Linked DNA regions of Homo sapiens. The protein of the gene in region 1 interacts with the protein of each later gene in a biochemical or structural test. Each region holds a gene or a part of one and is shown in the gene's direction. Other genes may lie near its edges. The genes, in order: THRB and MMS19.

The links.
Region 2: the proteins of THRB (region 1) and MMS19 form a complex in vitro, tested with the Homo sapiens proteins (one study listed by BioGRID).

The regions. Positions count from the first base shown.
Region 1 is NC_000003.12:24,145,147-24,148,973, reverse strand, and holds part of THRB (thyroid hormone receptor beta), read left to right. Parts: intron 1-2,151; coding exon 2,152-2,299; intron 2,300-3,827.
Region 2 is NC_000010.11:97,488,400-97,492,226, reverse strand, and holds part of MMS19 (MMS19 nucleotide excision repair protein homolog), read left to right. Parts: intron 1-3,827. UniProt on the Homo sapiens protein: Key component of the cytosolic iron-sulfur protein assembly (CIA) complex, a multiprotein complex that mediates the incorporation of iron-sulfur cluster into apoproteins specifically involved in DNA metabolism and genomic integrity.

The DNA.
Region 1 (3,827 bases):
TGTATGAACATCACTGAAATTAATGGACTCAAGTGCTTAGGAACACAGAACCCAAATATAATATTGACAGTTTTCTGTTAGAACTTGAACAATGGAAATGATAAGGGATTTGCATATACGCCCCAAAATCAAGTCTGTTAGTCTCAGTTATTCCTGATGTTTTTCTATTTTATTCTGCTTTGCCCAATATAAAATCCTACCTCGGGCATTTTCATAATAAGAAAGAGCTTTTGTGTCTGAAGGAGGAATATGCAATAGGGTATACGTATATAATCAAAGCCAAAGAACATTAACCGGGATCATAAAAATTTGGGCTGAATCTAGATCAACTGATATTTCCCACCATTTATCTAGCAAAGTTAGAGGACCCCTTTAGGCCTTAGCAGAAGACATCCATCAAAACTTGTTTTGCCACCAGGAACAGTGGCTCATGCCTGTAATCCCAGCACTTTGGGAGGCGGAGGCAGACGGATCACTTGAGGCCAGGTGTTGGAGACCAGCCTGGCCAATATGGCAAAAACGCATCTCTACTAAAAATACAAAAATTAGCCAGGCGTGGTGGCTCACGCCTATAATCCCAGCACTTTGGGAGGCCAAGGAGGACGGATCACTGAAGGCCAGGAGTTCGAGACCAGCCTGGCCAACATGGCAAAACCCCGTCTCTACTAAAAATACAAAAATTAGCCAGGTGTGGTAGCACACGCCTGTAATCCCAGCTACTCTGGATGCTAAGATATGAGAATCACTTGCACCCTGGAGGTGGAGGTTGTAGTGAGCCAAGATCGCACCACTGCACCCCAGCCTAGGTGACAGAGCGAGACTCTGTCTCAAAAAAAATTTTTTTTAATTTCTTACATTTTAAAACACTCATTTTGCCTTGTTATCCTACCAACAGTTAAAATGAACTTTTTAAGTGGCTGGGGCAGGACTGTTTATAATCTGTTGATCTAAAACATTCAAGTAATACAGTAAAATTTACTTCATTATACATCATATAAGCAGTTAAGCAAGTAAGATGTGGAGTGCCGCTCCTGGGTTGCAAGGGAGGTGGGGGTCATTGCTGGGTGGTTTCCATCCTACCTGAAGTTCCCACATGTACTTACCATGTGATTTGGGCAAGCGATTTAACCTGTCTGAGGTTTACTTTTTTAATCCCTACCATGGAAATATTTAGAGCACCTCCTTTACATGATTGTAGGGAAGATAGAAGGATATTGAATGTTTCTACAGCACTTAGCAATGTGCCCTCACAATAAGTGCTCACTGCTGTTATTAACTTCTACAATACAGATGACAGTTGCCTCAACTTGAGGATCACGTCCAGAAAAATTCTAGTATTGCACATTCTTGAGAATATTACCTAAGTCACCCAAACCTAGAACTAAACAGTGTCCCCAGATGCTACAGAGGTGCTCTCTCATGCCTTAAGAAAGGAAGAATCATTGAACCTGTAGGTGTATGTCTACAGATACCAAAGAAAGAGTGTTATAAAAGGAAAACCTCAATGCAATGAGCTATGGGGAAAAACTTGGTAGAAAACCTGGAGCGTTCTACTCCCTGAGTCCTATTGTTTGAAAGGCTAAGTGAGCTGATCATGGCTGTCTCAAGATTCAAAAACAAGTATTAAACTAAATCCAGGAAGCCAGCTAGTACATCTGTTTAATTACTAAATTATTAGATTTTTAATTAATAAAGTATTGCAAGTATCCATGTCTTTTCATTTTTTTCACTTTCTTCTTGGTCTTGGAGCTCTCTTATTACTCAGTATAAAGTAGCAAAACTCCTCATAGCTTAATTTAGCAACACAATTATGTCAGTATATGAAATAGAACAGTATAATTTACTTATATATTCAATATTTAGAAAAAATAAAAACAAGCGCTAGATGTTCCTACTAGCCTCTTTTCCTTGAATAAAGACCAAAAAAAAAGGTGTTGACTCTGTAGTCCTATGGCATCATCAGCTCAGATTTAGAACTCTCTAGATCCTTCTGGGCCAACTGTCTTATATTTGAATATGTGGAGCTAGAGGCCTAGAAACAGGTTAAGGTCCAAAACGATTCATCTCATAGTTATATGGACACAAAATTCCAGAATCACTGATTTCAAGAAAATATGAAACTGTTGTCTTGGGTCTTTGTTTTTCATATAGGGTTTCTTTAGAAGAACCATTCAGAAAAATCTCCATCCATCCTATTCCTGTAAATATGAAGGAAAATGTGTCATAGACAAAGTCACGCGAAATCAGTGCCAGGAATGTCGCTTTAAGAAATGCATCTATGTTGGCATGGCAACAGATTGTAAGTAGATCTTCACTTGCTTCATATTCAAGGAATGTTGATTAGGAAACAGTTTGGTTCAAGGAGATCGACTGGGCAGAAAAGAAGGCAGGAACCCAAGAAGACAGAGAAGGGAATACCTTACTTTCGCATACACCCCTCACTCCCCACATCCAGGCTTGCCCTGAAAGGGAGGTGGGAGCCATTGCTGGGTGGGTTCCATCCTACCCTGTCATACCACCTCCTAACTGTCAAAGTATGGATGATGGAGGAGGAAATGCAGTTAAATTATCCCTATCACATTTGCAGGCCTAGTTGTTAGCAACACTCTGTTTGAGACAGAGATTACAAATGAGAGGTCTGGTCCATTTACCTTGATAAGGTATCATTCTATACACAGTGTTCACATGGGGTAGAGCCTCAGGGACTAGTCCTAATATTTTTTCAAGAGCAAAGACAGGAATTTATTTTATGGACATTTTTGGAGATGGGGCGCTGGCAGAAAACATCGTGTTCAGAAATTTCTGAAGAATGCAAAGTTGAGTGCTATTGCATGAGTCATCCTGCAGTTGGTTGTTTGTTATATTTTTAGCAATAAAGACATTCCGAGCTGAAGTCGTCCTACCCAGTTTTCAAAGTGCTACAGCATATGGTGGCGAGATTAGCCCTTGGGGTCTCTTCTCCCCACACTGTGCGAGGGATTTACACCAGTCACTTTAATTAATCTAATCATAAAAATAAGAATCATGTCATTCAGAATGTGTGGCCTCCCTTTTGCCAGGCATCAGTATTAATGATTCTACTGGCATAAATTTTTTGCACATCAGTGAGAGATTCCAACTATTAGTTAAAAATTAAAAAGAAAAAGAAAGATAAAAAATGAAGAAAGAAAAAAGAAAATACAGTGAGGATTTTTCCTGATGAAAGAAGTAATCATGACTCACATTTTATGTGAGAAATAGAGTTCTTTCACTGAGAAAAAAAAATCTGTGAAATGTTCTGGTTTGCCCATTAAAGAAGAAGGAATGGAGAATCTTTAAAAAGGAAGAGGGTTATGTTAGAGTGTTAGGCTGGAAATCCTGGGTTAATCCCCACCTCTGGCTGAGTATTTTCTTTATCTTTATCTCTTAAAGGCCTTTAGCCCTTGCCAACAATATGCCTGATAGGGATATGTGAATATGATTGACTTACAGCCAAATACTTAGATATGCCACTATGACAAACTTATTATTGATTATCTATTTCAGTGTTCTATTGAGAAGTTTAAGATACTAGTGTCTATGAGGTTTAAAAACTCAGTGTTAATCTAGACTGTATGGAAATAAATTTTGAGTGCCCTTTACTTGCTTGTGAGGGATTCTAAGAGCTCAGGCTTTCTAATCAGAAAAACTTCTGTTCGAGTCCCAGATCTGTCACTTACTAGCTGTGTGACCTTTGGAATTAAGCTGAGATTTTCCTTCTGTGAAATCATTGCCTACCTTGTAGAGTTGTTTTCAAGATTAAATTAGATAATGTTCATCAAATACAACAGTCCCTGGCACACCGGAAG
Region 2 (3,827 bases), on another chromosome or scaffold:
AGTGCTGGGATTACAGGCGTGAACCACCGCGCCCGGCCTCATTTTTCTCTAATTTTTTCTACTTTTATACTTTTTTTTTTTTTTTTTTTTAGATTGAGTTTCACTCTGTAGCCCAGGCTGGAGTGCAATGGCATGATCTCAGCTCATTGCAAACTCTGCCTCCCAGGTTCAGGTGATTCTCCTGCCTCAGCCTTCGGAGTAGCTAGGATTACAGGCATGCGCTACCACACCCGGCTAGTTTTTGTGTTAGTAGAGACAGGTTTTTGCCACGTTGGCCAGACTGGTCTCAAACTCCTGACCTGAGGTGATCCACCCACCTCGGCCTCCCAGAGTACTAGGATTACTGGCATGAGCCACCGTGCCCGGCCTTATAGTCACTTTTATGTTTGTGCTGCATTAATTCAAGAATTTTGTGAAAGCTATATGAAGACTAAAGGGCTTTGCCAGGAGAGTTCACCCACATACTGGGATTCAAGGAACCACATGCAAATGGCTATTTATTTGTAATTATAAAGCAGCCATTTTCATATTAATGTATGCAGAATGCCAAAGAAGCATTTTTCTTTTTTTTTCTTTGAGACGGAGTCTCGCTCTATCGCCCAGGCGTGATTTCGGCTCACTGCAACCTCTGCCTCCCAGGTTCAAGCAATTCTTCTGCCTCAGTCTCCTGAGTAGCTGGGACTACAGGCGCATGCCACTACACCCAGCTAATTTTTTAATTTTTGGTAGAGATGGGGTTTCACCATATTGGCCAGACTGGTCTCGATCTCCTGACCTCATGATCCACCCACCTCGTCCTCCCAGAGTGCTGGGATTATAGGCGTGAGCCACCACGCCCGGCCTTTACCTCAATTTTTTTAAAAAAATGAAAAAATAGAAGGTACTGAATGGGCCCTATTTGGCACTTCTTGTCTTAGAGCCTTCGTTCCAAATATAGACCCTAGCCTGACATCCACAGAGGGTTTTGATGGTATTGCTGAAGAAAAATGATTCAGTTCATTGATATCCTTTGCTATTAACAGTTGTTAGTCCCCTATGGCTTCATCTGTACAATTATTAACTCCTTCTGTGCCCATTATTGAAATTAGTTTTTAGATGGGTTGTTTCAGCAGAGTTTTCTGTACTATAGCCAGGCTGTTCCAAGAAAGTACCCTTTTCTACCTTCCCAAATGTTGCAATGCCCTTTTGTGGTTCGTAACCCAGAAATAGGTGTTTCAGTTCATGTAAGTGTTGCCATTAAGGAATTGGGTATAGAACCCAACTTGGTTTGTTTGGCCTGTTAGTCTGGCTGCTACCCCTTCCCCCACCCTTACAGTCTGCTCATTTTTTCCCTTGGCTCTTTCTCAGGAGCTGGGGCAGCAGCTGGGCCTTCCACATCCTGGCACAAGTGGGCTAAGAGTGCCTGATGTCTAAATTGGTGCCAGTCACGAGCTATAAGTCCTAACTAGAGCTCTCATTTTCCTCAGTCTCATTGGACGACTTCTTACTGTGGTGCTAGAGTGAGCCTCTGCCCAGGTCAGCTCATAACTGTTGCTGTGAGACCACAGACTTTAGGAGAACTGGAAGTTTAGGATTTCTTCAGACCTCTCTTTCACTTTTTCCAGCATTGGCACAAGCTGACTAGTTAAGGTTCTGCATTTAGAGGTAGGTGGATTAGGAACCCAGAACAGGCTGCTGGAAGTAATTCTCTGGTTGTCACACCTTATTTAGCTATAAGTGTTCAATGTGAACCAAAGCCTTATGAAGATTGTTAGCCTTTTACCCTGTTTCTCCCTTGAAAATACATTCTAAGATGCTTCTCTTCAATATATGTGAGTTACTATTGTGCTGCTAAAATTGCATTTAAAGGCCAGGTGCAGTGGCTCACATCTGTAGTCCCAGCACTTTGAGAGGTCAAGGTGGGTGGATCACTTGAGCCCAGGAATTTGAGACCAGCCTGGGCAACATGGCAAAACCCTGTCCCTACAAAAAAATACAAAAATTAGGCGGGCATGGTGGTGCATGCCTGTAGTCCCAGCTACTCGGGAGGCTGAGGTGAGAGGATCACTTGAGCCTGGGAAGTCGAGGCTGCAGTGAGCCATGATTGTACTACTGCACAGAGCTAGACCCTGCCTCAAAAAAAAAATCCAAATAATATAGGTAGATACTCCTCCCTCCAGGAGGTGGAGTTTAATCTTCCCCTCCCCACTGAATGTGAGCTGGACTTAATGAATACCTTACAAATAAAAGAGTACCAGAAAGAGAAAAGTAGTAACTATAGTGCAGAGACCTGGCAGACATACCTTAACCAAGTGATAAACATTAACATTGCCAGTGATGGAGAAGCCATGTTACTATCTTATATCCCTGATATGATATGTTGAGAAGGGTACTTCACCTCTGTGATATTCTTTTTTAAAACCCATAACCCCAGTCTAAACATGAGGGAAACATCAAACAAATGCAAATTGGGGAACCTTCTATAAAGTACTTCTTTAAAACTATCAAGGTCATGAAAAACAAGGAAAGACTAAGAAACTTTCACAGACCAGGAGAGACTAAGAATTCAAGATGACTAACTGCAATTTGGTATTCTTAATTGGATCCTGGAACAGAAATTTGGCATTAGTGGAGAAACTATTGAAATCTGAATAAAGCCTAGAGTTTAGTTAATAGTGTGTATCAGTGCTAACCTAATCTCTTAGTTTTGACACTCGTACATAGTTTCACAGATGTGTGCCATGTAAGACGTTAACATTAAGAGAAACCGAGTGATGGCTATACGGGAACTCCGCACTGTCATTGCAACTTTGCTATAAATGTAAAATTATTCCAAAATGAAATATTTCTTTTAAAACAATAGTCTACCTCTCAACCCTTAACTATGCATTTTCCCTCCCTGAAGGCAACAAATGTTATTAGTTCCTTTTATATCTTCCAGAGATGTAAATAAATGCAAATAAAAACAATCCCCCCTCCCTTTAAAAACAATGCTACGCACATATTATATACACTGTTTATACACACTGTTATTTTAGATCTTGACTCATTATCAGTATATATGTAGCTTCAGTCTTTCTTCATTTGTCTTTTTAAAAGTAGCTACAGGCCCGGTGTGTTGGCTCATGTCTGTAATCTCAGCACTTTGGGAGGCCAAGGCAGGCGGATCACTTGAGCTCAGGAGTTCGAGACCAGCCATAGGCAACATGGCAAAAGCCCCATCTCTACTAAAAATACAATCCAGCCTGGGCAACAGAGCAGGATGCTGTCTCAAAAAATAAAAATAAAAAAGATTAAAAAATAAATAAAAGTAGCTACAGAGAATTCCATTGTATGGATGTACTATAATTCATTTAACTGGTTTCTTATTGATGGGCATGTGTTGTTTGCAGTCATTTACTGTTACGAATAATGCTGTATTGAATAACGTTATACATGCATTATTTTGCACTTTCACAGTACAGTTAGCCCTCCATATCTGTGTGTTCTGCATCCTTGATTCAAGCAACTGCAGGTCAAAAGTATTTGGGGGAAAAAATAGCAACTGTACCAAACATGTATAGACTTTTTTCCTGTCATTATTCACTAAACAATACAATGTAACAACTATTTGCGTAGCACTTAGATTGTATTAAGTATTATGAGTAATCTAGAGATGATTTAAAGTATACAGGAGAGTGTCCATAGTTTGTATGCAAATACTCTTACCATTTTATATAAGGGTCTTGAGCATCCACAGATTTTAGTATCCTCAGGAGGTCCTGGAGCCAGTCTCTCATGTATATACCAAAAGATGACTAGATAGCTAGAGGATAAACTTCTAGCTTTCCTGGGTTAAAGCCTATATG